Linked DNA regions of Homo sapiens. The protein of the gene in region 6 purifies or fractionates together with the protein of the main gene of each other region. This does not show direct contact. Each region holds a gene or a part of one and is shown on either strand. Other genes may lie near its edges. The genes, in order: CLIC4, CALU, PAIP1, TSPAN3, SEC13, TPD52 and ZNF174.

The links.
Region 1: the proteins of TPD52 (region 6) and CLIC4 fractionate together in Homo sapiens (co-fractionation; one large-scale study listed by BioGRID). This does not show direct contact.
Region 2: the proteins of TPD52 (region 6) and CALU fractionate together in Homo sapiens (co-fractionation; one large-scale study listed by BioGRID). This does not show direct contact.
Region 3: the proteins of TPD52 (region 6) and PAIP1 fractionate together in Homo sapiens (co-fractionation; one large-scale study listed by BioGRID). This does not show direct contact.
Region 4: the proteins of TPD52 (region 6) and TSPAN3 fractionate together in Homo sapiens (co-fractionation; one large-scale study listed by BioGRID). This does not show direct contact.
Region 5: the proteins of TPD52 (region 6) and SEC13 fractionate together in Homo sapiens (co-fractionation; one large-scale study listed by BioGRID). This does not show direct contact.
Region 7: the proteins of TPD52 (region 6) and ZNF174 purify together in Homo sapiens (co-immunoprecipitation; one large-scale study listed by IntAct). This does not show direct contact.

What each region holds. Positions count from the first base shown.
Region 1 is NC_000001.11:24,814,308-24,819,041, forward strand, and holds part of CLIC4 (chloride intracellular channel protein 4), read left to right. Parts: intron 1-4,734. UniProt on the Homo sapiens protein: In the soluble state, catalyzes glutaredoxin-like thiol disulfide exchange reactions with reduced glutathione as electron donor. Can insert into membranes and form voltage-dependent multi-ion conductive channels.
Region 2 is NC_000007.14:128,762,845-128,767,578, reverse strand, and holds part of CALU (calumenin isoform a precursor), read right to left. Parts: intron 124-4,734; coding exon 1-123. UniProt on the Homo sapiens protein: Involved in regulation of vitamin K-dependent carboxylation of multiple N-terminal glutamate residues. Seems to inhibit gamma-carboxylase GGCX. Binds 7 calcium ions with a low affinity.
Region 3 is NC_000005.10:43,535,812-43,540,545, reverse strand, and holds part of PAIP1 (polyadenylate-binding protein-interacting protein 1), read left to right. Parts: intron 1-1,510; coding exon 1,511-1,622; intron 1,623-3,601; coding exon 3,602-3,727; intron 3,728-4,734. UniProt on the Homo sapiens protein: Acts as a coactivator in the regulation of translation initiation of poly(A)-containing mRNAs. Its stimulatory activity on translation is mediated via its action on PABPC1. Competes with PAIP2 for binding to PABPC1.
Region 4 is NC_000015.10:77,050,524-77,054,109, reverse strand, and holds part of TSPAN3 (tetraspanin-3), read left to right. Parts: intron 1-1,180; coding exon 1,181-1,333; intron 1,334-1,641; coding exon 1,642-1,725; intron 1,726-3,586. UniProt on the Homo sapiens protein: Regulates the proliferation and migration of oligodendrocytes, a process essential for normal myelination and repair.
Region 5 is NC_000003.12:10,299,197-10,304,112, reverse strand, and holds the end of SEC13 (protein SEC13 homolog), read left to right. Parts: coding exon 1-87; intron 88-2,738; coding exon 2,739-2,852; 3' UTR 2,853-2,965; coding exon of another isoform or gene 2,966-3,007; 3' UTR 3,008-3,182; downstream 3,183-4,916. UniProt on the Homo sapiens protein: Functions as a component of the nuclear pore complex (NPC) and the COPII coat. At the endoplasmic reticulum, SEC13 is involved in the biogenesis of COPII-coated vesicles.
Region 6 is NC_000008.11:80,052,579-80,057,312, reverse strand, and holds part of TPD52 (tumor protein D52), read left to right. Parts: intron 1-3,882; coding exon 3,883-4,031; intron 4,032-4,637; exon of another isoform or gene 4,638-4,707; intron 4,708-4,734. Other genes in the region: TPD52-MRPS28 protein, read left to right, coding at 3,883-4,031.
Region 7 is NC_000016.10:3,404,215-3,408,273, reverse strand, and holds part of ZNF174 (zinc finger protein 174), read right to left. Parts: intron 3,849-4,059; coding exon 3,626-3,848; coding exon of another isoform or gene 3,501-3,625; exon of another isoform or gene 3,366-3,500; coding exon of another isoform or gene 3,286-3,365; exon of another isoform or gene 2,233-3,285; intron 1-2,232. UniProt on the Homo sapiens protein: Transcriptional repressor.

The DNA.
Region 1 (4,734 bases), on a different chromosome or scaffold from region 6:
ATTTGGAATGACTAGGACTCTCTTCTATGTTTCTTATAATTAATGCTACACAGATATAAGAATTGGCTTCCAGCTAGGCCAATCAGCCATACTAAGAAAGGTGGGGATTTGTCTAAGCTGTAGAATATGTGGTAGAAACAGATTTGGGATGTGTCTGATAGGTCAGGAAAGACTGGTTATTTGTGGACTGTAGGTCTCAAACTGAGAGAGAAGTTTAAAGAGGAGAAGGGGTGGGGAAAGACACATTCCAACTGAACCCAGTAAGAATGTCTTAGCAGGAGTGTGGCACAGGACTGCAATGAGATTTGATTTCAGTTCATTTTAAAGGTAACTTTCTAAAGCTATAATCCAAGGACATTGACTTTTCCGACTGTGTCCCTAGGATTCAGAGTTTTTATTTACTTACTTCTTTGAGGTGTTCCAGATCTCTAGGTCCTGGATGTACTGTAATGATAGTTACCTAAATTGCAGATATGCAGCTTTGCATCATACTGTAATATTGGCATAGATTCAAAGCATTATTTGTTTCTTTTAGGCTTTTCCAGTTTCATTATCCTGAAAATTGACATGTTTTGTTTCTACTGACCAAAACCTTTCTTACTGGTTAACTTGACTGTTGCCCTCCATGTCCAGATATATTTTCCAGGAATGGGATTATTGAGATGGAGGGTTCTAAAATAATTATAGGCATACCCTGAAGGGTATGGTTCCAGACCATTGCGAGTTAGGTTCCAGACCACAGTGATAAAATGAATATTGGAATAAAATGAGTCACGTGAAATTTTTCGTTTCCCAGTGCATGTAAAAGTTATATTTACAGTAGTATACTGTAGTGTTTTAAGTGTGCAATAATAGCATTATGTCTGAAAATATTGCATGTACCTTAATTTAAAAATACTTCATTGCTAGGCTGGGTGTGGTGGCTCATGCCTGTAATCCCAGCACTTTGGGAGGCTGAGGCGGATGGATCACCTGAGGTTGGGAGTTCGAGACCAGTCTGACCAACATGAAGAAACCCCGTCTCTACTAAAAAATACAAAAAAAATTAGCTGGGCGTGGTGGCAGGCACCTGTAATCCCAGCTACTCGGGAGGCTGAGGCAGGAGAATTGCTTGAACCAGGGAGGCAGAGGTTGTAGTGAGCCAAGATCGTGCCACTGCACTCCAGCCTGGGTGACAAAAGCAAAACTCCGTCTCAAAAAAAAATCATTGCTAAAAAATGCTAATGGTTATCTGAGCCTTCAGCGAGTCAATCTTTTTGCCGATGGAGGGTCTTGCCTTGATGTAGCTGGCTACTGACCGATCAGAATGGTGATTGCTGGTTGGGGTGGCTGTGGCAATTTCTTGAAGTAAGATAACAATGAATTTTTCTACATTGATGGACTCTTCCTTTCATGAAAGATTTCTCTGTAACATGCAATAGTGTTTGATAGCATTTAAAAATTTTAAAGTAAATATTCTTTGCCTGAGGCTAATCTCAAGAGGTCCTGAGAACATGCACCCCTGTTTGATAGTGTTTTTACCCACAGTAGAACCTTTTTCAAAATTAGAATCCATCTTCTGAAACCCTCCTGCTGTTTTAACAACTAAGTCGATGTAATATTCTAAATTCCTTGTTGTCATTTCAACAATGTTCTTAGCATCTTCACTAGGTATACATTCTATCTCAAGAAACCATTTTCTTTGCTCATCATAAGAAGCAACTCCTCATCCATTCAAATTTTATTATGAAGGTAGAACAATTTGATTACATTTTCAGGCTCCAGTTCTAATTCTAGTTCTCTTGCTATTTTCAACACATATGTAGTTCCTCCCTCCACTGATGTCTTGAACCTGTGAATGTCGTCCATGAGGGTTAGAATCCACTTCCTCCAAACTCCTGTTAATGTTGCTATTTTGACCTCCTCCCATGAATCATGAATGTTCGTGTTTTTTTTTTTTTTTTTTTTTTGGACGGAGTTTTCGTTCTTATCGCCCAGGCTGGAGTGCAGTGATGCGATCTCGGCTCACTGCAACCTCCACCTCCCAGGTTCAAGCAATTCTCCTGCTTCAGCCTCCTGAGTAGCTGGGATTACAGGTGCCTGCCGCCATGACCAGCTAATTTTTTTGTATTTTTTAGTAGAGTTGGGGTTTTGCCATTTTGGCCAGGCTGGTCTTGAACTCCTGACCTCAGATGATCCGCCCGTCTCGGCCTCCCAAAGTGCTGGGATTACAGGTGTGGTATGAGCCACCAGACCTGGCTGAATGTTCTTAATTGCATCTAGAAAGGTAAATCTTTTCCAGGTCACTTTGCTTTGCTCAGATCCATCAGAGGAATCACTTTCTATGGCCTTATGAAATGTGTTTATTAAATAATAAGACTTGAAAGTCAAAATTTATGGACTGCAGAATGGATGTTGTGTTAGCAGGCATGAAAACAACCATGATCTCCCTGTATATCTCTATCAGAGTTCTGGGGGGACTAGTGCATTGTCAATGAGCAGTAATATTTAGAAAGGAATCTTTTTTTCCTGGGCAGTGGGTCTCAACAGTGGGCTTAAAATATTTAGTAAACCATACTGTGAACAGATGGATGTGCCATTATCCAGGCTTTATTGTTCCATTTATAGAGCATCTGTAGAGTAGCTTCAGTATAATTCTTAAGGGTTCTTCAAATTTTGGAATGGAAGATGAGCATGGGTTTCAACCTAATGTCAACAGCTGGATTAGACTCTTAACAGAGTCAGCCTGTCCTTTGAAGATTTGAAACCAGACGTTGACTTTTTCTCTGTAGCTATGAAAATCATAGATGACATCTTTCAATAGAAGGTTTTGTCTGCATTAAAAATCTGTTTAGTGTAGCCACCTTCATCAATGATCTATCTAGAAGATCAATTCTAGATAGATCATTGTTGAAGGTAGATCAGATTTTCTAGATAGATCATCAGATGAAGGTGATGAAGGAAGATCTAGATAGATCAGCTAGATCTTCTAGATAGATCAGCTAGATCTTCTAGATAGATCAGCTAGATCTTCTAGATAACTGGCTGCATGCAGCTTCTGCATAAGCATTTGCTGCTTCATGTTTTACTTTTATGTTACAAAGATGGCCTCTTTCCTTAAACCTCACGAACCAACCTCTGCTACCTTCAAACTTTCTTCTGTAGATTTGTCACCTCTCTCTGCCTTGATAGAACTGAAGTGAGTTAGGGCCTTGATCTGGATTAGGTTTTGGCTTAAGGGAATGCTGTGGCTGGTTTGATTATCTGGACCACTCAAACTTTCTCCCTATTGGCAATAAAGCTGTTTTTCTCTATCATTTGTGTGTTCACTGGAATAGCACTATTAAATTTCCTTCAAGAACTTTTCTTCTGTATATGCTGTTTGGCTGTTTGGTGGAAGAAGTCTAGCTTTCAGCCTATCTCAGCTTTTGGCCTGTCTCAGCTTTCGACATGCTTTCCTCACTAAGCAGAATCATTTCTAGCTTTTGATTTAAAGTGAGAGATATGTGACTCTTCCCTTCACCTGAACACTGAGAGGTCATTGTAGGGTCATCAACTGTGGGCTAATTTCAACATTATTTTGTCTCAGGGAGCAGGAAGGCCTGAGGAGAGGGAAAGACAGGGGAACAGCAATCACTGGAGCAGTCAGAACACATATGATATTAATCAGTTAAGTGTGCTGTCTTATATGGGTGTGGTTTGTGGTGCCCCCAAAACAATTACAAGAGTAACATCAGAGATCACTAATCACAGATCATCATAACAGATACAATAATAATGAAAAGTTTTGAAATATTGCGAAAAATACCACAGTGTGACAGAGACATGAAGTGAGCACATGCTGCTGGGAAAAATGGCGCCATCTTGCTTGACTCAGGGTGCCATAAACCTTCAATTTGTAAAAAACGTAATATCTGCAAAGCACAATGAAGCAAAGCTCAATAAAGCAAAGCACAATAAGACAAGTTATACCTGAAGTTACTCAATTTGGTTTTTTTTTGTTTGTTTTGTTTTTTTTGAGACAGAGGCTCACTCTGTCACCCAGGCTGGAGTGCAGTGGCACAATCTTGGCTCACTACAACCTCTGCCTCCTGGGTTCAAGTGATTCTTGTGCTTCAGCCTCCCAAGTAGCTGGGATTACAGGCACCTGCCACCATGCCTGGCTAATTTTTGTATTTTTAGTGGAGATGGGGTTCCACCATGTTGGCCAGGCTTGTCTCGAAATCCTGACCTCAAGGTATCCGCCCACCTCGGCCTCTCAAAGTGCTGGGATTACAGGTGTGAGCCACTGTACCTGGCCCAGTTACTCAGTATTCATCCATTCATTTATTTATTGATTTATTCATTCTGCAAAGCATTAATGGACTACAAAGCACTGTGAATATATTAGTAAATAAAACACAGTTCTTGCCCTCAACAAGTACAGTCATGTATGGGTGGAGAGGTGTTTATGGTGGTGGGACGGGGAAGTGAATGGAATCAGGAAAGGCTTTAGAGAAGAGAGAACACTTGAACTGTCTTAATTTAAAAAAAAAAAAAGAAAAAAGATGTTCAGCAGTTGAACAAAGGAGTGACAGGTATTCCAGAGCAGAAGAGTCATTTTAAATCAATAGTATAAACATATATGTTATACACATACTATACAGAAATAGTATGTAATGTATATTATTATTAATATTATATGTATATTTGGGGGAGACTTGGAGTGGCTGGAATGTGATGTGCATGGTTGGGATGGTAGGCAGGAAGGCTGAT
Region 2 (4,734 bases), on a different chromosome or scaffold from region 6:
CTTTGGTCTCTTCCTTGTCCATCTTCCCATCACGGTTCTTATCCCGAAACTCAACAAACTGCTCTCGCTCTGTCTTTACCCATTCTGGCTCATCAGTATTCCCATCATGGCTGTACATGTCACCTGGGTACACAGACATACATACAAAAGAAGGGTTTGTCTTTTCCCCAAAACTGCCTCATGCTAATCTGGCCTAACCCTTTTTCCTCATCCATTTGTTTGGAACCCAACAGCAGCTACAAGGGTATTTTAGGCCAGACAGACCTTAGAAAGCAAGGTATTTTCCTGAGGCTTAATCACTTATCTTGCAACAAGAATATTTCCAGCTGCTGATTTTAAGTCACATGAGAGCAAAGAGTTCTTATACCTTAATAAATGCAGAAATAAGAGGAGAGAGCTACCATCAAGAAAGACTTAGACTCGTTCCCTACATTTCATTTCACCCTAAGGTAGCTAATTAAACGGGACCACTTGTTTTAGAAAGGTGTAGCCAATTACTACAAAGAGTCCATTATACCAGTGGCCTTCAGTTGGGACAAGCACGCCCCTGGGGAAACAGGAACACTGTCAAGGAGTACACTGAGAAAGGTCAGTCAAGAGAGAATCAAATTCCAGATACTCAGTTCCACATATAGATTTTTCCAAAAATTGATCTTCATAAGAATGTACCTCTGGCCATCAAGGCTTTTTTCCCATCTCCCCCCTTTCACAACTGCCCTTGTCCCACTTTATAAAAGAAAGGCATATTTTCAACCATTTTGAAACTAGAGTGTAAAAAGCTCCAAGATAATGAAAAAGAAACAATTAGAAATACTAGTGTCTGGATGGGCGTGGTGGCTCACACCTGTAATTCCAGCACTTTGGGAGGCCTAGGCAGGCAGATCACCTGAGGTCGGAGTTTGAGACCAGATCACCTGAGGTCAGGAATTTGAGACCAGCCTGGCCAAAATGGCAAAACCCCATCTCTACTAAAAATACAAAAATTAGCTGAGCATGGTGGTGCGTGCCTGTAATCCCAGCTACTCGAGAGGCTGAGGCAAAAGAATCACTTGAACCCAGGAGGCAGAGGTTGCAGTGAGCCGAGATCATATCACTGCACTCTAGCCTGGGCGACAGAGCAAGACTCCGTCTCAAAAAAAAAAAAAAAAAAAAAGAAAAAGAAATACTAGTGTCAGTCTTGAGAATGCAAATGCCTGAAAAAAAATGAATAAATTCGTTTGCATGTCAAAAGGTTTTAAATTCTTTGCTTTAAAAAAAAAAACCTTGAAAAATGGCCTAATTGAGTTTTAGCTAAGGGATCATTAAACATAATTTTTGGGCTGGGTGCAGTGGCTCATGCCTGTAATCCCAGCACTTTGGGAGGCTGAGGCGGGTGGATCACTTGAGGTCAGGAGTTTGAGACCAGCATGGCCAACATGGTGAAACCCCGTCTCTACTAAAAATAAAAAATAAAATTAGCCGGGCGTGCTGGCCCACACCTGTAATCTCCAGCTACTGGGGAGGCTGAGGCAGGAGAATCGCTTGAACCCCAGAGGCAGAGGTTGCAATGAGCCGAGACCGTGCCTGTGTACTACAGCCTGGGTGAGAGAGAGAGACTCCACCTTGAAACAAACAAAACCCATAATTTTTGATGATAGATTACATGATTTCTGGCATGTAACTCAAAAGGAGTTCCAAGAACTAAGCAATATTGCTATGACAAATCTTCCATCAACTTATTTACTAATGTAAACAAGGTCTGTTAGTACTTCCTCTAAAAAATAAAAATTAGGAATTGGTGCTGAATCCCATTTCACTCTAGGGATAAGTAATTGTCATCCATGGATATGAAACTATTTGAATAAAAATGTGTCAAAGAAATGCATTTAAAAATATATAAACATAAAACGTCTGTAATAAATGTTATTTTGTTCAATTGTGTATTAATAATTGTAATAGTAACTTAACACAGAAGACTCTAAAAACACTTAAGAGCCATATCACAGAACACCATTTTCCATATTTCAATTTACATACACAATGTTCTTGCAAATAAGAATGTCAAAGTGACTAAGGCTTCAAGATAAAATATGTCAGAATATAATTCTGTTGAGGAAGTAAACTGCAAATGAATCTAACAAATAGAAGGCTGACTTGTGAGTTTGAGATCAGCCTGGACAACATGGCAAAATCCCTACAAGAAATACAAAAATTAGCCAGGCATGGCAGCATGCACCTACAGTCCCAGCTACTCGGGAGGCTGAGGCAGGAGGATGGCTTGAGCCTAGCAGATCGAGGCTGCAATGAACCATGATCATGCCACTGCACTCCAGCCTAGGTGACAGAGTGAGACCCTGTCTCAAAAAGAAAAAGAAAAAAAAGAAACAGGAGGTCGGGTGGCTGATGTCTGTAATCCCAGCACTTTGGGAGGCCAAGGCAGGTAGAGCTCTTGAGCCCAGGATTTCCAGACCAGCCTGGGCAATGTAGGGAGACCCATGTCTATAAGAATAATAATAAAAAAAATCAGCTGGGTGTGGTGGTGCTCTTCTGTGGTCCCAGCTGAGGTGAGAGGATCACTTGATCTCCCCACCTTGGAGATCGAGGCTGCTGTGATTGTGCCACTGCACACCAACATGGGCAACAGAATGAGACTCTTGTCTTTTTAAAAAAGAAGAAGAAGAAGAAACAGGATGCGTGTAAAATGTCCAAGTTGGTTAACAGTTTATTCATTTATTTTTTTAAGACAATATCATGTGGTGACTGATAAGTAGTATAAATATCCCCAAATCCCTATAAATTTAAACAAAAAAAAGGGCAATTAAGTGATGGTCACATTGTTGCTAACCAAACGCCATAACTAAAAAAAAAAAAGTACCAAAGAAACATTTCCTTTTTAACTATTATGAAATGTAAAAAATTACGGATATTTTCTTATATACCCACAATGCCACTTTCATATTTTACAAAATCAATTCCTTGGTATCATCTAATACCCAGACTGAATTTAAATTTCTTGATTATCTTTTTAAAGTTGTCGTGTCCAAATTATTCATATGAAAGACGGCAGGTAAGAAGTTGCTATGGTATCTTGTATTTAAATTTTATAGATTTCTTTCCGAATTACTTTCAAAATGTCAATGCTTATCACCAACAGAGATTATTCTTTTTTCTTCTGAGACAGGGTCTTGCTCTGTTGCCCAGGCTGGAGTGCAGTGGTACAATAACGGTGCACTGCAACCTCAAACCCTCAGGCTCAAGTGATCCTCCTGAGTTGCTGGGACTACAGGCACACGCCACCATGCCTGGCTAATTTTTTCTTTTTTTTTGTATTTTTTGTAGAGACAGGGTTGCGCCATGTTGTCCAGGTTGTTCTCAAACTCCTGGGCTCAAGTGATTCACCTGCCTCAGCCTCCCAAAGTTCTGGGATTACAGGAATGAGCTACGGCATCCGGCCCAACAGAGACTATTCTTTACAACTGTTTAAATTTCTTAATTAAATATTTCAGATGCCAACTTTAAAACACATAAGGGAATGCTGTTGGTCAAATTCTTTCAGGAGTTATTTAAGTGAACAAGTCTGAAAATGCTTGAGTTATACGACATCTAAGTTAAGTGTACCTGCATTGCATGTAAGGTATGGGAAAACACCTAAAGAGAAATCTAAATAGTTCCTGCAAGTTCTAAGCAAAGGTAATTATTTAGTCAGTGCTGCCATTTTCCTGACCTTGAGGGTTAAGGGTAGAAGTACTCCTCTGTCTTAAACTCACAAGAGAAATTCCTCACAGCAGGACTTGCCAATTTTTTCCCATGCTACAGCACATTCAGAAAATGTAGTTTGTACGGTCCACTGGATCAGGTTCCTGCCCTAGCTGTCCTGAAAGCCAAGAAGACTTACTCACAGGATACAGATTGGAAAGTTCTGAATTAGGAAATAGACACATGCTTAAAAGATATGGTTTTAAAGGAAGCTAGAATACACAATACACTACAACGTAAGCGCATTTTAAAGCTAGGTGACCATGATAAACTATTTGAATTTCTATTTTTATTTATTTTACTTTATTTTTTTGAGACAGAGTCTTGCTCTGTCGCCCAGGCTGGAGTGCAGTGGCGCGATCTCGGCTCACTGCAACCTCCGCCTCCTGGGTTCAAGCGATTCTCCTGCCTCAGCCTCCTGAGTAGCTGGGATTACACAGGCACATGCCACCACACCTGGCTAATTTTTATATTTTTAGTAGAGACGGGGTTTCACCAGGTTGGTCAGGCTGGTGTCTAACTCCTGACCTTGTGATCCGCCCACCTCAGCCTCCCAAAGTGTTGGGATTACAGGCATGAGCCACCATGCTCGGCCGAATTTCTATTTTTAAAAGACTCAGTCTATTTGATGATTTGAAGGTATTATTAATTTTCTTGGGTTGACATTATCTTTAAAAAAATGTTTTTAGAAACACATATATATTTTAGACATATATACCTCAATGTTTACAGATGAAATGACATAATGATTGGGATTTACTTCAAAGTAAGAAGGAAGCAAGGAAGTGGATGTGGCTGAGAAAAAACTGGCTGTAAGTTGATTGTTGTTGAGGTTAGGCATAGGTACATGGGGATTCATTATACTATTCTAATTTGGGGGCAGGTGCAGTGGCTCACACTTGTAATCCCAGCACTTTGGGAGGCTAAGGTGGTCAGATCACTTGAGGCCAGGAGTTCAAGATCACCCTGGCCAACATGGTGAAACCCCGCCTCTATTAA
Region 3 (4,734 bases), on a different chromosome or scaffold from region 6:
TTAACCTTTCCAAAATAAACATACATTGCTTTTATAATTGAAAATCTTTAGCTTAAAAATTTGACTTTTCACCTAGTCAATTATGTAGGTATTTGTTTGCATGTACATAATCATATCCTAACGTACAGTCTGTCATAGCATTTTATGAAAAAAAAAGTTATTTCATCAACTCTTACCGACAAAGTTGTAACAGAAAAGCAGCCAACAGGTGTTTTTAAATAACTGATTTGGCATTAATTAACTGATCTCTTCCATTATTAACCAGAATGTACTATCTATAAATATCCCAACTTTTTTCTGATGAGGAATTTAATATGTACAAGATGATAACAAATATCTTACCACATTTGACTTAAACAGAAGATGTTGCTCAGTTAATATACCTCGTAAACATTGGAATTGGCCACGTAAGCACAGTAAGCTGTGCTGGGGTTTCGTGGTTGGCAAACTGACCCAGAGTCAATTACTGAACAAGAGGTAATTTATTTTTTCTTTGTTAAAAATTGTTTACAAAGTCAACCTAAACTGGCTGCGTGGAAACCATTCAGTACCCATAGCTTTTCCCTTTGTCTTGAAAAGGAAAACTGTCAAAACCAGTTTTGTGAAGCAAGTTACTTTCCCAGAGTTTTCTCACCTTATCAATAAAGATTACAAATACTTAATAACAAAATGATAAACTTTTACAGTCCATTTAAAAAATCTATGTTAGTAACAATATCTGACACTGTAGTTCACTTATGAAGGCAGTGACAGGATTATTGTGCCTAGTTTAGTTACCTTGTAGGAACTATGACTGACAATAAGCTCCAAGAAGAGGATTTCTTCTTTTTCTCCTCTGTGTGAAGCAAATGGGTCAAGTCAGGGGCAAAGAGAGCAAGGAAAAATCAGTTATTTGAAGCTGTCAGTCTCATTGGAAATAGAAAACAAGTCCGGTGCTTTCTATATTGTGGTTTTAATGGGGGAATTTTTTCCTCACATTAGTACTTCTCTGATACGTATAATGGAAATTACAAGAATAATGGACTTAAAAACAATTCATTTTATTTTCAGTTGGAGGTTGTGTGTGTGTGTGTGTGTGTGTGTGTGTGTGTGTATTTAAAGATCCTTTTCAAAGTTGTAGTATTAAAAAAAAAATTACAGAGACAATTTGGGTAAAATCAGTGCTTTCTTAGTAAAAAACCTATAAGACAAGGTGAGGCTCTCTCTCCCCTCTTTGGGCTGCCAGTATGCTGTGAATCAGATTACACCTATGTTGCTTAAACATATTAAATTTGATAAAAATCGTTGAAAATAAAACTATCAGTTTTTTCAAACTGGGAGACTTAGTATGAAAAGATGGTGTATATTCTAGCCTCTTCAATAGTCAGGAACAGTTTCTTTATTGTAGAAAGAGCATTGGGACATTGTCCTTGCCTCTTGCTGTGGACAACCAAACTGACAAATGGTTATTTTGTTTGACTATTTAAAAAGCAAAGCAATGTGAGATTATAAAAGATATGTCTTTAATTAGATGTCGGACTGAATATGAAGTTAAAGATCAAGCTGCAAAAGGGGATGAAGTTACTCGAAAACGATTTCATGCATTTGTACTCTTTCTGGGAGAACTTTATCTTAACCTGGAGGTGAGAAGTTTTTCTTTTGTTAAGTACTAACAAGGCCTGAGAACATAAGTTGATCTCAATGAGGAATTTGTGTTCACATTGTACTTTTACAACATTAAGAGTGAAATGAAAGAGAGAGGAAAGAAAACATGTTTCGGCACCTGCTAGTGTCTGTGGTTTACTGGACCGTCTGTCCATAACATTTACTCATGGACAGAATGTTAGGAAATAATTACTGAGGTAAAAATCTGCGTACTTTTAGGAAGCTGTGGTTTACATGCAAATTTAAGTTCTTGAGATATCAACAGTGATACCTTTTTGAGTTCTTACATCTTATATATTAATACATTTAGTATGTTGACTTTCAGATGGTGGCTCAAAGCAGTTTACTCTGCAGAACTCTGAGTGAAAAGAGAGACTAGAGTCTCTCTAGGCTTTTCACTCTAATTCACCCAAATAGTTTTTTAAAAATATTTTTTTAATTGACAAAAATTATATCTTTATGGTACACAACACTTTGATATATGCATACATCGTAGAATGGCTAAATCAAGCTATTTAACATATGCATTACTTGACATACTTTTTTGTGTTAAGAACACTTAAAATTTTTAGCAGTTTTCATGTATACAATATATTGTTAACTATAGTCATCATGGTGTACAAGAGATCTCTTGAACTTATTCCCCCTAAATGAAATTCTGTGTCCTTTGACCAACATCTCCCCAATACCCCAACCCCTAAGAATAGTTCTTTTTTGTCCTATTTTATATATTAATCTTCCACATAAAAATGCATTTGTACAAAGTCTACAGCTAAACGTATTTATAAATTTGGGTGGTATACTTAAGTATATGCTTGTTAGTAGGCAATAGAAGTGCTGGATTCAGCACGGCATTATTACTGTGTAATAGATTTGCTTGATTTTTTTTTTTTTTTTTTTTTTTTGGGTGGGGACAGTCTCGCTCTGTCACCCAGGCTGGAGTGCAGTGACGTGATCTCGGCTCACTACAACCTCCGCCTCCCGGGTTCAAGCGATTCTCCTGCTTCAGCCTTCTGAGCAGCTGGGATTACAGGCACGTACCACTATGCCTGGCTAATGTTTATATTTTTAGCAGAGATGGGGTTTCACCATGTTGGCCACGCTGGTCTCAAACTCCTGACCTCAGGTGCTACCCGCCTCAGCCTCCCAGAGTGCTGGGATTACAGGCATGAGCCACCATGCCCAGCCTCTGCTTGATTTTTTAAATTAGTGAATATCAGATATAAGCTTATACCTTCTTACACCCTGATTTGAGAACTTAAGATCGTAAACGCCATAATATCAGAAACATCATAAGACAATGTGAATCTATCAAATGTGCATCTCAGTCATTGTATCTAAAAGGTCTATGTCCAGTCCAGAGCCTAACTTACTATGCCTTTTTACCACAGGTAGACTTAGTTTTTTGAAAAATCTTATGCCATGTTCTTTTTCAGTCTAATTTTTGTTTAAGCCAAAATATGGACAGCAATCTAAAATAAATACTGTTGAGCATTTTCTATATGGAGATAATGATGCTAGGTCAATGGGGGATGTAAAGATAAGGCTTAGTTCCTGCACCTAAAATTCTTCTACACAGTGATATAAGATACATATACCACTCTGATGCAAAATACCATATTTTAAAATATTTTAAAAGCAGAATAAAATGCTGTGTGTTCAAAAAAAAGTGGTAGTTGAACAAACTAAAGAAAGCTTTATGAAGTAGTAACATCAAAGTGGGCTTAAATTATGCTGACTCTGGTATTAAATTTTACCCATAGCTTACCAGTTTTATTAGAGGTCTTAGTTACATATAAAGTAATTCTAACAAATTCTGTGAAGATATCAGAGTGTGTTCCTGTGACTTTTGTGATTTAGCTAAAATGCTTATTTTGCCAACACCTTGTTAGTTCATTTATGTATCTGTATTATATTTTGGCATCATTCCTTTTGTTCTTTTTTTTGGTCCCGAAAGATCAAGGGAACAAATGGACAGGTTACAAGAGCAGATATTCTTCAGGTTGGTCTTCGAGAATTGCTGAATGCCCTGTTTTCTAATCCTATGGATGACAATTTAATTTGTGCAGTAAAATTGTTAAAGGTAGGTTTTTTTTTTTAATTTAACTAATTTACGTATTTACTTATGATTTAGAGGAAGGTTAGTCTATATAGTATACAGATGAATTCAAGATTTATCACTTTAAGGTAAATATTGACATTTTACTTTTTTCTCGAATATTTTGGAAAAGCGAGATATACTTATTGTTTAATATATGAAGCAAGTTCAGAAGTGAAAAATGGAAGTCCTTTACGCCATTTCCATTTGCAAATTCTGTCTTCTTCCCTTCTTATCTCTGTATATGTGCTCTTATTAAATAAGATCTTACTCTGTTCTGGCTTTTTGTTTTTGTTTTTGCCACCTAATGAAACATCTTAGATTTTTCCATGGCACAGAGATTTACCTCTTTTATTGAATAACTTCCTAGTATTCTGTCATATGCATATGCATTGTTTATCCATTCCGTAACATCTATCAATGTTTACTAATGAATATTTGGATTATCTTCAGTTTAGCCATGGCAGCATTGCTTGTAATCTTTCCTCTTGTCATATATATGTGCAGATACTTTTGTAGGTTAAATTCTTAAACACGGATTTGGTGGGTGGACGAGCATATGTATTTTACGACAAGTAATGGCTAATTTGCCTTCCAAATGCTGAACCAGAGTATAGCCCCATCAGCAGAATGAGTACATCTCTTCCTACATCCTTATAGTGATGGATATAATCAATCTTGGTTTTTGTTTTGTCAGATGATTTTAAGCATTTCTTCATGTTTATTAGCCATTTGTTTATTATTTCCTATAAATTACCTGTTTAAATCCTTAACTGATTTATTTCCTGATGAAATGCATGTTTGTGTTTTTTTTTTTTATTCAAAGCTTCTATACTTGTTGCTTGCTGTATATTTCAAAAAAAGTGACATGTTCATTAAAATCTAATAGCCTATCTTAGTCATACAGGGAATATAACAGTCGTTGACATAAAACCCATGATTAAAGTTCTGCTATTGTTTTTTTTGTTTTAGTTTCTCTCAGTCAAGAGAAA
Region 4 (3,586 bases), on a different chromosome or scaffold from region 6:
TATTTCTGTGTAAATTAGCCATGTTTCTTCACATACATGGCTATCCTGATGTGACCAATATTTTTCCCCAACCTTCACCCTTGAAAAGTTTATTTCATCACCTAGCCAGATGAGAAACATCTTGAACTTTTTTTTATCATCTGATTTCCCCTTCCCTGACCCCAGTCTGTACTCTCCCAAAGTACTTAGCCAAAGGGGTGATGACGCAAGAGAGAGGTATGTGTCACAGGAAAGGTGGGAGTCCAGATTGACTCCAGGGGAGGTGGGAGGTCTATATATACCTTTAGAAAACAAGATAAGAAAAGGCAACAGAAAAACTGTCAAAAAAAAGTTGTTATGGACAGTCTGATACACACAAAGGTAGAAAGAATAGTGTAATAGATGTTTGCACCCCGACCTTGCCTCAGTAATATCAACTTTTCGTCAGTCTTATTGCCCCTACTTACTTTTTGCTTCATTATCTTAAAGCAAATCTCAAAATTTTTAAGACCAAATATTTTAAATACTTTGTCATTGGAAATAATATTTAACATGGAACCAGATATTTAACATGTAAGACATGAAGATTTTCCTTAGTTAGAAACTACCGCTTATAGGCAATGTACTTTTCTTTTCTTTTTTTTTTTTTTTTTTTTTTTTTTTTTTTTTTTTTTTTTTTGAGATGGCGAAATTTCACTCTTGTTGCCCAGGCTGGAGTGCAGTGGCGCGATCTTGGCTCACTGCAACCTCCACCTCCCGGGTTCAAGTGATTCTCCTGCCTCAGCCTTTGTATTTTTAGTAGAGACGGGGTTTCACCATGTTGGTCAGGCTGGTCTTGAACTCTTGACCTCAGGTGACTCGCCCATCTCGGCCTCCCAAAGTGCTGGGATTACAGGCGTGAGCCACTGCACCCGGCCTGGCAATGTACTTTTCATATGGAGATTCTGGAGCCACTAGCCATGTCTGGCTGTTTACATTAAAATTTAAAATGCAGTTTTCTAGTCACACTAGCCACAATTTAAGTGCTCAGTAGAGCTTCATGTGGCTAGTGGCTGCTATATTGGATCATGCAGACTTTCCATTATAGAAAGTTGTATCGGACATCACTGGTCTAGAGTAGCTTATTTTAAAGCTCTGTAGTACATGGAACTTCAGGTATTTGGTTTTTGTGAGAAATAATACTTATTCTCTTCTCCTTTAGCTGCATTGTTGTGGAATTCACAACTACTCAGACTGGGAAAATACAGATTGGTTCAAAGAAACCAAAAACCAGAGTGTCCCTCTTAGCTGCTGCAGAGAGACTGCCAGCAATTGTAATGGCAGCCTGGCCCACCCTTCCGACCTCTATGCTGAGGTGAGTCTCTTGGCCACGACTTGAGTCTAGCTTGATTAACCTGTTTTTCACCATGTCTTATCACCATCTGGGACTTCTTTTCTGCCACCTTGCTTGTCTTTAATGTCATATATTGTTTTACTGTAAATTATTATAAAATGCATGTCTTTGTTTTAATTACATGTCTGTAAATTATACCAATCATGGAATCTTTTTTCCACTCTTTCAGTTTCTGTCATTTTCCTTTCTGTAAGTGGGTAGTGGCCTGTGAATCTGCAGCTTTAACTTTTAAAGAACACTTCTAACGAGGATGACTGTGTTTGTTACAGGGGTGTGAGGCTCTAGTAGTGAAGAAGCTACAAGAAATCATGATGCATGTGATCTGGGCCGCACTGGCATTTGCAGCTATTCAGGTAAGCACAGCTTGCCAAGGAGTTCTATCGGAGTGAGTTGGTTCTCTGTTGTCAGCCCTGAATGGTTTTAATCCCCATCACAGTGAATCTTTGTGTATGTAGGTAATGTGGAAGTGACTGAGGTACTGGCCTCCAGTTTCCCATGTTTTCCATTTCTTGTCTATACACCTAGACCCGGAATGGTCTAAAGAAACCAGAAATCTGGATGGGGAGGGACCACGTGTTGAGGGAACTCCTCGTCTTACTGTCTTTCTTGATTAGTGAGTGACCTGTTCAAAACATAAACGAACTGTTGTCTTAGTGTATTCTTGGAAGATATTTTATTAGAATGTCACAAAATTTTTAAAAATTGTACTTCTTTCTTTCAGTTTGGGAATACAAAGCTTTATTCAGTTTTTTTGTATGCTAGTTCTCCCTCTAGTTCTTGTTTTTCTGTCCTCACAGGTTTTATATATTCATATACGTAAATCAAGAACTGGTACTACAGCACTGGTCTCTTGCACTAAACACAACAACTTTTAAAAATAGAGACAAGGTCTCACTCTGTCACCCAGGCTTGAGTGCAATGACATGATAATAGCTCACTGTAACTTTGAACTCCTGGGCTCAAGCGATCCTCCTGCTTCAGCCTCTCCAGTAGCTGGGACTACAAGCACGGGCCACCACACCAGACTAATTTTTAATTTTTTTTTTTTTTTTCCAGAAATGGGGTCTCATTATGTTGCCCAGGCTGGTCTCAAACTCCTGGCCTCAAGCAATCCTCTGTCTTGGCCTCCTAAAGTGTTGGGATTTACAGGCGTGAGCCACCGCACCCAGCTTATGCTTTCTTTTCTTTTCTTTTCTTTTTTTTTTTTTTACGACAGAGTTTTGCTTTTGTTGCCCAGGCTAGAGTGCAATGGTGTGATCTCAGCTCACTGCAACCTCTGCCTCCCAGGTTCCAGTGATTCTTCTGCCTCAGCTTCCCAAGTAGCTGGGATTACAGGTTCCCGCTACCATGCCCAGCTAATTTTTGTATTTTTAGTAGAGACAGGTTTTTACCATGTTGGCCAGGTTGGTCTTGAACTCCTGACCTCAGGTGATCCACCTGCCTCGGCCTCCCAAAGTACTGGGATTATAGACGTGAGCCATCGCGCCCAGCCTCAGCTTATGCTTTCTTAAGCCTGAAACCTATTTCAAGAGCTAAAAGAGCCAGGTGTGATGGGTTACACCTGTAATCCCAGCACTTTGGGAGACCGAGGAGTAGGATCCCATGATGTTAGGAGTTTGAGACCAGCCTGGGCAATAAGACTCCATTTCTACCAAAAAAAAAATTTTTTTTAAAAAAGAAAAATGTAGATAACTTTTATTTGTTAAATAAAACCAATGTAATTGCTAGTTTAAATGTAAGTTGCTTGGATTGCTTGCTCTTTGTATATTTGAACAGAAGCTAGTGTATTTAATGGGAAAGGCCTTTTAAAATGGCAAAAGGATGATTGTTTACTTTGCTGATATTCAGACAGCCCTGAAATGATTCATTAAAAAGCCTACCTCTTTATTTGCCATGGTCTTTGCCCTTCTAAGCATTTACTCTGTAGCTCTGCATAGCAGTAATCTGATGATCAGCAGGGATTTATTTCATATTTTGATTATTTATGCAAACACATTCATTTAGCTAAAAATAATGAAATATGAGGAAGGTCTCTTTTCCCAAATAGAATTCTGAACTGTGCATTCTTAATGATTTTATGTTCAGTAATAAAGCCACATGTACTAGCATGCAGCAAAAAAGTTTTGGAACTGTATGGTACTTGTGGTCATGAAATATGCAACATGTATATAGAAGACTGATAAAAATAATCACTTTAGCTATGTCCCTCATCTA
Region 5 (4,916 bases), on a different chromosome or scaffold from region 6:
TTGTTGCACAAGTTCAACGATGTGGTGTGGCATGTGAGCTGGTCCATCACAGCCAACATCCTGGCTGTCTCTGGTGGAGACAATAAGGTACATACCCATTCCCCGTGGCATGGTGGACACAGCCTGTTGGTCTTCACCCCGCCCACTAGAGAGGGCACTTGACATTCCCATCTGACTGCAGGCTGGGCAGGAGCCTTAGCCAGGACTGCGTTTTGAGTGTGCCTCTTAGTTACATCATTAATGTCACAGCCCCTGAGGTAGTATTAACACGTCCCCCTTTCACAGATGAGGAAAGAAGCTGACAGAGGCGATTTGACTTGCATGGGGGTCCCAAAACTATGAGGTGGCAGAGCCAGTCAGGCCCATCACCCTACTAAGCATTTGGTCACCTCATGGTGATGTTCAGTTAGCTGTGCCAAAAAGGCAAGTGTATAAGAACCCATAAACAGAAGAAGATTGGGGATATTTTTTGTCCATAACACTGAAAAGGCTTTTTAAAAACCTTTAGAGTTTATGAATACTTGTTATGCTGGTAAGAGGCAGGTACACAGTGGGTGCACTGGAAGAGTTTGCATTTTGCAGCTGAAAGAGTTCTGGAGACCAGCTGCTCAGGGACCCAAATGTACTTCACACAACTGGACTGTGCAGTTAAAAGTGGCCAAGGTCATTTTATGTGACGTGTATTTTACAATTAGAAGGAAAAAAGCTACCCGCAGAAAGGAAGCAGTAACAAGCCATAGCCATCTGCCCAGCTGAATTCCCCTATAAGACAGAGGATCTCTAACGCCGCAGGGTCAGTTCCACGTGGAGTGGCTGTGCTGCGTTTTCAGGCACATCTGCTCTGCGCCTGAAGTGCGAGTTGGTCTGGATCCTGCCAGCCCTTGCTGCTTCTCTCCCTTGCCTATGTTGGTCTTTTACTGTTTCCCAGTGGCCACTTTGGCTCCATGTCTTACCTTTCATTTGTGTGGCTCACGGCACAACCAACACAGGCAAGGCAGAGAAGCAGCTGGTCTCCAGAACTCTTTTCAGCTGCAAAATTGAAACTCTGTACCCATTAAATAACTCCCTTCCCCATTGCCCCTCCCCAGCCCTGGCAGCCACCCTTCTCCTTTCTGTCTATGTGAATGTGACTGCTCTAGCGACCTATCTAAGTGGAATCATACAGTATTTGTCCTTTTGCGACTATGTCACTAGCAGTATGCCCTTAAGGTTCCTCCATGCTGTACGTAGCATGTGTCAGAATTCCTTCCTTTGTAAAGCTAAGTAGTGTTGCATTGTATAGACAGCCCACACCCTGTTTCTACACTTATTCCTCCACCAAAGGGCACCTGGGCTGCTGCCACCTCTTAGCTATTGCGAATAGTGTGGCTGTGAACATGGGTGTGCAGATCTTGAGAGCCTCTGCAGGCGGCTTTTCTGGCCGAGGGTCCCTTTCATCTACAGTGGTCCCAGAAAGATCTAGCAGGCCCCCTCTCAAAGCCATATTTCTAGTGAGTGCCAGAGTCAGGACCAGAACCCAGGTTGATGGCACTCAGGGCAGACCAAGGGACCCAGATTGCCTCAAGCAGGCCCCCAGTGACTTTTTTACAAGGCTGTAAGCAAGTGCCTGGCTGTGCACGCAGTGTTGTGGGGCCCGTCACTGTGCATTTAGGCTTCTTGCTCTTCTTTACAAGCCTGTTTCCTTTCGCTGTCTCCATAGCACCCTTACCTAAAGGACTTAGTATGTTTTCAATCCCAGAGCATTCTGCAGTGTGTTGAGTGAATAGTTTGTCCCTAAAGCAAGAGTTCTTAAAATCAAAATCGTTATTTTCATTTTTAATCAAACTAATATATGTACATAGGTTTAGATTGTTTTTGTTTTTTGTTTTGTTTTTTGAGATCGAGTCTCGCTCTGTCGTCCAGGCTGGAGTGCAGTGGCGCAGTCTCGGCTCACTGCAACCTCCGCCTCCTGGGTTCAAGCGATTCTCCTGCCTCAGCCTCCCCAGTAGCTGGGAGATTACAGGTGGCTGCTAGTTTTTTTGTGTGTATTTTTAGTAGAGATGAGATGGGGTTTCACCAGTTCAGGCTGGTCGCGAACTCCTGGCCTCAGGTGATCCACCCATCTCAGCCTCCCAAAGTGCTGAGATTACAGGCGTGAGCCACCATGCCCGACCTAGACTGATTTTTTTTAATGCAGCCTCCTAATTTTCTCTCCAGGGGCAAACCTTTTCAGCTCTTAGCTATTTCTTATACAGTTTACTTCAGTGTAGAAACAACATATTGAACTGTTACCTTCCTCTACCACAGTAGTTTTCAAACTGCAGTGTTGTTAAACCTGTTAAAACAGATTGCCAGCCCCACCCCCAGAGCTTCCTAATCAGTTGTTCCAGGCCCCAAGAATCTGCAGTTGTAGCAAGCTCCCAGGTGACCGATGCTCTGCTCTGGTCTGGGGACCACACTTTGCGAACCCTGCTCCCCGCCACCCCATATCCTCTCGCTGTAGCTCTGTCACAGTTTGCTGAAAACAGTATCCTGTGTTGACATCATCATCCACAGCTGCTGTTATTGTTACTCCTTTTTTTCTGTGAGTTTTTATTCCTGGACTCTCATTTTGGTGAGATTTCAGTGGAGGAGGGACATGCTCTGTTCACCCACAAGCCTCTGGGCAGTGGTTCTTGATGAGGATGAGGCTCATATTTAGGGGACAGCAGAGGGAAGGGCACAGACCCGTGATAATCTGCTTGTGCACTGACTCGCAGGTGACCCTGTGGAAGGAGTCAGTTGATGGGCAGTGGGTGTGCATCAGTGATGTCAACAAGGGCCAGGGCTCCGTATCAGCATCAGTGACAGAGGGCCAGCAGAACGAGCAGTGACAAGACAGGTGGGGCCTGGCTCCCCACCCGCCAGCTCCAGGACTGCCCCTTCCTGGGCCAACTAACCAGACAACTGGGAAGAGCCCCCAACTCCAACAGGATTATTTTCCCAGGAGGAGTTACAGATGCAGCCACAGATTGATCATCTGCCTTAACGTGATCGGAGATGCTTTGTAATCTACTGTCCAGCTGAAAGCACTCATGTTACGAGGAAGAAACTACAAGTGATGTTCAAATCTATTTTGGGTCATTTTTATGTACCTTTGGGTTCAGGCATTATTTGGGGGGTTTTGTTTCCAAAGGAACTAAATAAAGTCATATTGCTTATAATTCCTGCTGCGTTATCCTAACCACCCCACCCCACCAGCTCAGTTTGACTCTTGTCGGTCCACGCACTAGAACAAACTATTCACAAAGGCCACGGCTGTGATGGCCTGGCTTAACCCCACGCACAAAGGTGGCTTGTCACTGCATGAGCATCTCTGATTCAGTTTATACTGAAAGCACCATACAGAGCACTGGACTCAGCCTTTGGTGACAAGGACTGTAGCCCTGGGTCTGCTACTTACCCTCTCGGTACACATCCTGTTCTGCAGAATGGGACTAATACAGTCTGCCCTACAGGATGGCTGCAAGATTCAAACACGCTAGTGCATCTGGTGACCTACAAAATGCCACGCAGGTGCAACGTGGTATTAACCAAACACCAATAGTTAAGATGCTGGCCCAGAAAGTGGGCACGATTCATTTAGTTTATTGACCCTGTCAGGAAAAGGAGGGCCCCATGATGGGAGACCTAACTGACCCTGAACCAGGTATCACCTTTCAGCGGAGGCCCTGTGACCCTGACAATCGCCATAGCCATCAGTGAGCCTGCGGTGAGCCAGACCCTACACTGGATCTTTCACACATTCGCTAATTTAAGCAACACGAGAACCCCGTGTGGGTGTACCCAGTTCACTGATGAGGAAGCGCTCAGAAGGTAGAAGCCCTGCCCAGGACTGTGCAAACGTAAAGCCAGCGTCAGGGCCTGGCCCATCTCAACAGTTACTCCCCACTGTAGAATCAGGGTGGGAGCTGGGGGGCTCTCCTCAGCTGTAATACAAGGATGTTTCTCACACCAAACCTTTGTATGAATAGATTCAGATAAAAGGTCAGCCCACTTGCCTCAGGCCCCCTAGTCTGCCTACTTCTTGTCCTTCCCTCCTTTTTCAGCAGCAAAATCCCCTTTAAAAAAAAAAAAAAATCTTTGATCATACTATGTAACATAGAAGAAAGTGAAACTGCTTTGGTTAAAGGTGAGGACAGAGAGGCCATGGCCTGGCCCAGTCAGCCTCCAGTCAGTCCACAAAGCCCAAGCCTTCTGAGACCAACATGAAAACAGCTGCTTCCTTCCTTCCCTTACTCAGAAAAGCAAAGCCCAGGAAGGCACCTTCACGTGCACTACTGAGTGTCGAGTTCTACAGTGAATCCTTGAACCATATCCACGTCTGCCTCCCTGATACGCTCTGTGCTCCTCAAGCCTGGGCCTGGGCTTCCTATGGTGCCAGCTGCTGTCGCCAAGAAAATACCGAGAAGGAACTAGTCCCGTGTCACTCTGGGTTGGTGGTAGGTTAATGGGTCCCTGACTGTGTGCTCTATTTTAACTCCCACCACCAAGGATTGGTTAAGATAATTATGAAGTTGGCACCATAATAGTTGTTTATACTTAGAGTGGCAACACATTAACCATTCCTGGGTAAGAGGAGACCCCAAAATTTATTACCACAAAATAGCCTAGTCAAATAGAAATACTATCTGTAAAACTTGCCGGGCAGTTGTCAAGCCCAAATGAGATAAAAGTAAGGGAAATTTAAAAGGCATAGAGCTCTGGTTAGGGCCAGATGGCGCTAGCAGCCATATGTTTTTAATCCTTTTGCAAAAACAAAGCAACTGGGACAGCAAAAGAAACCCACAGACCCTAGAACATGGAGCAGGCCAAAGCCTTCATAGACACAATACCTCTGAGAGATCAGCAGGGTGAAGAAAAGGGAGTTTTTATGGTGCTATAAGCCAGAGACCCCA
Region 6 (4,734 bases):
TGTATTAAGTTCTTTGAGAAGTATCCAAATTGTGTTCCACAGTGGCTGAACTTTAGGACTGTTATGAATAATGCCGCTGTAAGCAATTGTGTACAGCTTTTTGTATGGATGTGTGTTTTCTTTTTATTGTTGCTTGTTTGTTTTTTGAGAAGAGTCTTGCTCTGTTGCCCAGGCTGGAGTGTAGTAGCATGATCTCAGCTCACTGCAACCTCTGCCTCCTAGGTTGAAGTGATTCTCCTGCCTCAGCCTCCTGAGTAGCTGGGATTATAGGCACACCACCACCATGCCTGGCTAATTTTTGTGTTTTAGTAGTATGGGGTTTCACCATGTTAGCCAGGCTGGTCTCAAACCCCTGACCTCAAGTGATCTGTCCACCTTGGCCTCCCAAAGTGCTGGGATTACAGCCGTGAGCCATTGCACCCAGCCTGGATGTGTTTTCAATTCTCTTTGTTATATATACCTAGGAGTGGAGTTGCTGGGTCATATGGTAGCTCTATGTTTAACTTTTTGAGGAGCTGTCAAACTGCTTTGCTGCCCAACTTCATTTTACATTCTCACCAGCTGTGTCTGAGGGTTCCAATTTCTCCACATCCTTGCCAACACTTATTAATCTCTGTTTTTTTTAATTGTAACCATCCTAATGGGTATGAAGTGGTATCTCCTTGTGGTTTTGATTTGCATTTCTCAAATTACTAATGAATGGTGTTAAGCATCTTTTCATGTGCTTATTGGTCATTTGTATATCTTGGGAGAAATGTCTATTTAAGTCCTTTGCCCATTTTCTAATTGGATTGTCTTTTTATTGAGTTGTAAGTTTCTTTATATGTTCTAGATACTAGACTCTTATTAGGTATGTAATTTGCCAATATTTTCCCCATTCTGTTGGTTGTCTTTTACTTTCATGACAGTGTCGTTTGAAGCACAACCTGTAGGCATCCTCCCTTTCCCAACCTCTAACACCCACAATTTTACTCTCTACTTAGATGGGTTCAGAGTTTTTTCTTGGCGTCCACATGTGAGTAAGAACATGCAGTATTTATCTTTCTGTGCCTGATTTATTCTGCTTAACGTATTGTTCTCTAGGCTCATCCATGTTGCTGCAAATTACAGGATTTCATTCTTTTTTATGGCAGAATTGTATTCCATTGTGTATACCACATTTTCTTTATCCATTCACCTGTTGATGGACACTTGGGTATTGTAAATAGTGCTGCAATAAACGTGGGGGTGTAGGTACCCTTTGATACACTGATTTCCTTTCCTTTGGATAAGTAACCCAGTAGTGGGATTGCTGGATTATGTGGTATTTCTATTTTAAGTTTTTCTGAGAAACCTCCATACTGTTTTTCATAGTGGCTGTACTAATTTATATTCCCAGCAACAGTGTATAAGAGTTTCATCTTCTCTGGATCCTTGCCAGCATCTGTTATTTTTTGGTTTTTTGATAACAGGCATAATAACAGGTGTGAGGTGATACCTCATTTTGATTTTGATTTGCATTTCCCTGATGATTAGTGATGTTGAGCATTTTTAATATATTTGTTGGCCATTTATATGTCTCTTCTGAGAAATGTCTATTTAGATCCTTTGCCCACTTTTTAAATGGGATTGCTTGTTTGTTTTGTTGTTGAATTGAGTTCCTTGTATATTTTGGATATTAGTCCCTTGTCAGATGAATAGTTTGCAAATGTTCTCTCCCATTCTACAGGTTATCTCTTCACTCTGTTGATGATTTCCTTGAATTTAGTCCCATTTGTCTATTTTTGTTTTTGTTGCCTGTGTTTCTGAGGTCTTAGCCATAAAATCTTTGTCTAGACCAATGCCCTGAAGTGTTTCTCCTATGTTTTCTTCTAGTAGTTTTATGGTTTTGGGTCCTTAGTCCATTTTGAGTTGATCTTTGTATATAGTGATAGACACATCAGAGATTCTTAATCATGCTCTTTATGCTTTTAAAGTCACTCTGTTTTACATGTATATATTGAATTAAGGAATCGCAGCCATGATGTGCTGGGCTAGGTGTGTTAGCAGCACAAGCTAACCAACAAAGGTGGGGAATATACTGTGTTGTGCATTGTTCAGAAAGATTTAGAGTGGTTTGTCTTTGCAGCTTTCATTAGAGGAAGTGAGTACCTCAGAGAAGTGCTAAGGGGTGGGAAACTTACCATTTAAGTCTATTCTTAGAAGTGTCTGAAGCTTTGGAGCCTGAAGTAGAGACAGAGGAAGTGGGAAGCTTAAGAGAGTGTACATGAGAATTCAGCCAGTAAACTGAGACGTGCATTCAGAAAACCTAGATAGGAATTCTGGTTCCTACATTATTTGTTTGATGACTTTGGGCAAATCATTTAATTTACTTAATTTTGAACCTTATTCTTTCCTCTTTTTTTGTCCTTTTCTTCTCGTATTCCACTTCGTCAATGTACATCTTAAAATGTGACTTACAAAACTGGGTCCAGTACTTGTGACTCTGACAAGCACAGGGGATTATTTATTTGTTCTGAGGGACCTCTGTTCCAGTTAATCTTATCTGAGAGTGGTGTTGTAGGTTCTTTTTCTTCTTTTTTTTTTTTTCTTGGCAGCTGCATCACATTTGATTTATCCTTTTCTCCGTTGCACTAATTTTCTTTGTTTTGTGTTCTCTAAAGACTTAAACATCTGTGAAAACATTTGACTGAGCAATACTCTATGTTATTTTTAAAGGGCATGTTGTCTTTGAAATCATAGAAATACCGTGCAGGTTGGGGCTGAAAATATGGCTTTGCAACAAGCCAGGAGACGCATTTCTCTGAGGGTCTTGAATGTTAATGGATATACTTTAGGGACCTAGATTTTCAATTTCCTGGGACCTAAAGTCTCTTCCACATGGTGTCTATTTCTCTCTGAAATAGGCAGTCCACCCTTTTCCCTGTTTCTGAAATAGAGAGTCTACCATTTTCCCTGTTTTCCTGGATTAGCCTTTTGTTCTACTCTGTCCATTTTTTCCTTTTCTTCATAGCTTCTGCTTACAGTTTTAGATTCCTCAAGCATATTTAAGCTTTCCATACCTCTCATAATCTCACTGTAGCCTACCTATACCTCAAGGCTTCTTCAAGTTTTTTCAGCTTCTACTTGCAATGTCATCTCACTTCTCAAACTAGATTCCTGAGTGAGAGAGACGAATAGTTGAGCACCTCTTTTCACACTGGGCTCATCCACTGGCTCTTGATGGGTGGCTGTCCATGGGTCAGGGCCCACCTCTAACCACCTAGTCAAGTCTGGGCAGTCAGCATCAAGGGGTTCACATGAAACCCTTGAGAGCAGGGATCTCCTGAGGAGGCGGTTTGATTTATTATGGCCATGACTTTGCCAGACACAGGGACTGAGTATATGTATCCAGTATATATACTCATATCAAATATGCAAGGAGATTGGATTTGGGTTTGGCTTGGTTGTGTGTGTTTTGGTAGGGGATGGAGATTATTTTGATTTAGTATACAAATACAAGTTTTGTAGGCATTCAGATAGAAATGTCTAGGCTGGGAAGGCAGACCCACAGGTCGGGAGAGTGGATGTTAGAGTGCTTTATTAAGTATTATCTGTGTAGAAATTTGAGTCCTAAACCTACATGAGATAGCTGAGTAAGGAAGTATAGGGAGAGAGGAGAAGGCCAAAAACAGCTTAAGATGGGATTATAAAGAGCTCCCATGGAGGAGGAAAGAGAACTCTACAGGAGAGATCAGCAAGTAACCAGTTTACTCAACAACATTATACATTGTTTTTAGAGAGAAAGATAAATGATTCAAAAAAATGTTTAATGACTGGAATTTTGGATGTAGTTCTGTGGTAATAATCTTAACTTACTGAATGACTTTTGCTATATTCTTACCCCAAACCCCTTCCTCATAGGTAGAAGAAGAAATCCAGACTCTGTCTCAAGTGTTAGCAGCAAAAGAGAAGCATCTAGCAGAGATCAAGCGGAAACTTGGAATCAATTCTCTACAGGAACTAAAACAGAACATTGCCAAAGGGTGGCAAGACGTGACAGCAACATCTGCGTATGTTTCCTTGATCATACACTTTCCTTGGGAGTGTAAAGGACACTGTTGTGCCTTTTGTCTGGAGAGGGGAAGAAAAAGAGGATAAGGATGCTTCAGCAGCTTTTCTTTGGACGACACGGCACCCTTTTTTTCTGATTTTCAAGTGTGCCTGCCTTTTTTTGTAACTTCAATTTTTCCAGACCACTTATTCTAAGGAATAGAAAGAAAGCTAGCCAGTTGGAGAAATAAAATTCAAATCCCATAAGTGTTATGTATTGACTTGCCACAAATATGTACATTTTGTCCTTTAGTACTCAGAATAACCCAGTAAGAATGGGTGGCAAGATAACCCTGGATAAGGAAACAGGCTCAGACAAATTAAGTTTTCATGTCACAAACCTCTCAAAATGTGGAGTGGGAATTCAAACTCAGGTCTGGAGCCAGTCTTTATTATTATTATTAATGTATTTTTTTAACCTTGTTGTGTAGGTATCAAAAGATTCTCAGGTCGTAGTCTCAGATATATGCTCTTGGCAGAGGTCAATCCCTTAGGCTTTTTGTCTTTTTGACCACACATGCTATGATATAGCATTATCATAATGCAGTTTTGTTTCCCGGCACAAGGAGGAGCAAGCTTCTAGCAGCAGAAACCGAACTGCTCTGTCTTCTGTATTGAGAGCCATCTGCAGAGCTGGTGAGCACAGAAGTTGTTTTACAATTT
Region 7 (4,059 bases), on a different chromosome or scaffold from region 6:
ACTTCAGCAAGAGTTATGAAATACTCTGAGAGGTTTCTCAAAGGGTGGCCCTCCGCTGGCAACTTGCATTAGACTCATCTGGAGCACTTGTTAAACAAGCAGGCTCTTCACCCTTCCCCCAGAGCTGCTGGGTCAGAATCTCGGGGGGTTGGGCCTGATAATCTGCACAGTTAGCAGGCTCCTGGGGTGACTGTGATTTATATTAAATTTAGGAACCAAGTTCTCCATCCTCCTTCTTCCTTTCTCCCTTTAGGGAAAGGTTTAGGAAATGAAGAACAGGGAAAAGCAAACCCATCAGAATTGGGTATCTAATGAAGAAGGAAGAGAGGTGAAATCTCAACATTGCAAATTTTACTGCTGTAGTCCAATGCCTGAGCTATTTCAACAAATACCCCTCACTTAGTAAACACTAATTGACAACCACCTTCTCTTCAAAAGATGGTAAGTTCAGAGACTGTGATGTTTTCTTTCATTACAAATTTGACAGTATATGAGTTCAGAAACTGGAATCAGGGCTTAGCCATGTATCCTAATTACAGAAGGATTGACAGTCTGGATGGAGATGAGCTGGAACGGCCTATGGGAAATCACAGGATCTGGAGAAGGATCCCTTGTGATGTGGAAAATGTGTGTGTGCACACGTGCATGCACAGGCACATGCACGTTGTTCAATATGGCAGCCACTAGCCACATGTGACTATGTGGCTACTGGGTACTTGAAATGTGACTACTGTGACTAAGGAACTTAATTTTAAATTTTTTTTTAATTTTAATTCATTTAAATTCAAATGTAAATAATCAGCCTATACAATCAGGGTCAATTGCTTTTTGACAAGACAATTCAATGGGAAAAGAATAGTCTTTTTCATAAAGGATTCTAGGACTACTGGATTTCCACATACAAGAGAATGAAGTTGGACCCTGCTATGGTCTGAATGTTTATCCCCCCTGTCCCCTGACACACATATATTGACAGTCCCCAGTGCAGTGGTCTTGGGAGGTGGGGCATCTGGGAGGTGATTAGGTTATGAGGGTGGGGTCCTCATAAATGGGATTAGTGTCCTTATAAAAGAAACCCAAGAGACTACCATGTGGGGACTCATAGCAGGCACCATTTATGAGGAATGGGCCCTCGCCAGACACCAAATCTGCTGGCACCTTGATCTTGAACTTCCCAGTATCCAGGAACTATGAGCAACAAATTTCTGTTGTTTATAAATTACCTAGTCTAAGGCAATTTGTTGTAAGAGCCTGATCAGATTAAGACAGACCCCTGATCAGATTGACAGACCCCTACCTCAAAACCTATATAAAAATTGACTTGTTTATGTATGGGGAAAAAATAAACTTAAAATGGACCAAATAGCTGAAAGTAAGAGCTAAATCTATGTCTCCTTGAAGAAACCATAGCTGTACATATTTGTGCCCTTGGATTAGGCAGTGCTATTTTACATATGACACCAAAGCATAAAGAAAGAAAAAAATAGATAAATTAGACTGCAGCAAAATGAAAAACGTGTGCGTCAAAGGACACTGTCAAGAAAGTGAGACAACCCACAAAATGAGAGAAAAGATTTGCAAATTACACATAAGGGTCTAGTATCTAGAATACATAAAGGACTCTTATAAAAAATAAAGACAAATAACCTAATTTAAAAATGACCAAAGGATCTGAACAGATATTTTTCCACACAAGATATGTAACTGGATAATAAGCACATGAAAAGATGTTCAACACCATTAGTCACTAGGGAAATGTAAATCAAAACCTCAAATCAAAATTTCTCACCGAATAGGATGGGTATAAGACAATAACAAGTGCTAGCAAGAATGTGGAGAAATCGGAATCCTCACACAGTATTGGTGGGGATGTAAAATGGTGTAGCTGCTTTGGAAAACAGTCTGGTAGTTCCTCATAAGTTAAACATGGAATTACCACATGACCTAGCATATGGTAATTCCACTCCTAGGTATATACTCAAGAGAAATGAAAACATGTCTACACAAAAACACACATTTATAGCAGCATTCTTCATAATAACCAAAAAGTAGAAACAACCCAAAAATCTATGAACAGATGAACCAACATGAACAGAAAACCAACATGTAATATATCCGTACAATGCCTATTATTCAGCCACAGAAAAGGAATGAAGCACTGATTGATGCTACAGCATGGATAAAACTTGAAAACATGCTCAGTGAAAGAAGCCACACACAAAAGACCACATATTGTGTGATTCAATTTATTTATTTATTTATTTTTGAGACAGGGTCTTACTTTGTCACATAGGCTAGAGTGCAGTGGCACGATCTCAGTTCACTGCAGCCTCGACCTCCCAGGTTGAAGTGATCCTCCTGCCTCAGCTCCCCCAAGCAGCTGGGATTACAGGTGTGCAGCACCATGCCCCGCTAATTTTTGCATTTTTTGTAGAGACAGGATTTCGCCATGTTGCCCAGGCTGGTCTCGAACTCCTGAGCCTAAGTGATCCGCCTGCCTTGGCCTCCCAAAGTGCTGGGATTACAGGCGTGAGCCACTGTGCCCGGCCTGTGTGATTCCATTTGTATAAAATGTTCAGAATAAGCAATTCTAGAGACAAAAAGTAGACTGTGGTTGCCAGGGGCTAAATGTTTATGTTCCTCCAAATTCATATGAAATTCTAACTCCCAAGGTAATAGTGTTAGGACATGGGGCCTTTGGGAGGTGATTAGGTCATGAGGGTGCTGCCCTCACTGGAATGGGATTAGTGCCTTCATGAAAGAGCCCCACGGGAGCCTGTCTTCCCCTTCTGCCACATGAGGACTGAGAAGTAGGCAGTCTGTGACCTGGAAGAGGGGCCTCACTGGAACCCAACCATGCTGGCACCTTGAACTCAGACTTCCTAGCCTCTAGAACTGTGAGAAATAAACTCCTGTTGTTTATAAACTACCTAGTCTCTAGCATTTTATATTAGCAGCCTGAACAGACTAAAACACGAAGTACCTCATTGGATGTAGCAAATATTAAGAAACTGAGGATTTTTGTCGTCTTGTAACCCTCCTCCCTAACGTGCTCACTGTATCTTGTATTCACATCACCAGGCTTGGCCAAAATGTCACTGTCATTCAGGCTTAGAGATCACAGGACTGTGTAGAACAAGGCCAGCAGTTACACAAGTATCACACCAGAGAAAGGGAAATAGATTTGAGGATCTAAAGTACAAGCAACATCACAGAGGAGGACAAAGATATAAGATATAGGGTGGGTTTTTATTTCTACCAGGCCCCTCTAAACAGAGGAGCATTTTAAGCAATGAAACTCAGCCATAGCTTGCATGGAAGTTCATCTGTGGCCATATTTGGATCTGTCTTTTCTATAAGAAGTTCTGAAACGGACAGAAAAGTAGGTACAACCCTGTCATGCACTGGATTCTTAAATTTTCATTAACAGAAAACGATAAAAACATACTTACTTGTAGTATCACCACCATCCTAATTAGTGAAATTTGTTTAGTGAATAATCATCTACTATTATATATAACATTTAAAAAAACACACACATGTGGTCTATGCCTTTGCAGAACCATGAGATACATTGATGGAGATAAAGGGCTGATGAGAGGGAGAGAAAAGGCAGAGTGTTTACCTGTCCCAGCCAATTTGGGGGTTGGTTCTTGGAGGAGTGGGGATTTCTCCCAATGATGGGGGCTCAGCCGGTCATAAGCTCCTGCCTGGGAAGGCTCTGCTGGAGAGCTCTCCCTGAGATCTCTCCTAGGAGTCTGCGGTTGAAAGTCTGGCAGTTCCTGTTCTCCAAGCTGAGATCCAGTTTTCTCCAAGAGCACCTTTTGCCCCTGCATACAAACGGCCACCTAGGAACAAGCCCCATCCATTAATTCCATCCATCAGGACTGAGGGAAGCTTGATCTCTCACTGTTGTATAATGACCCGTTTACCTTGGGAATTGCTGATAACCATCTAGAGGTCAACTTTCATAGAAACCACTGAAACCCTCAAAGGAAGTAAAGGGGAGAACGTGAAGAATGACAGGAATGAGGATGCTACAAATCAGCCGAGTGGCTT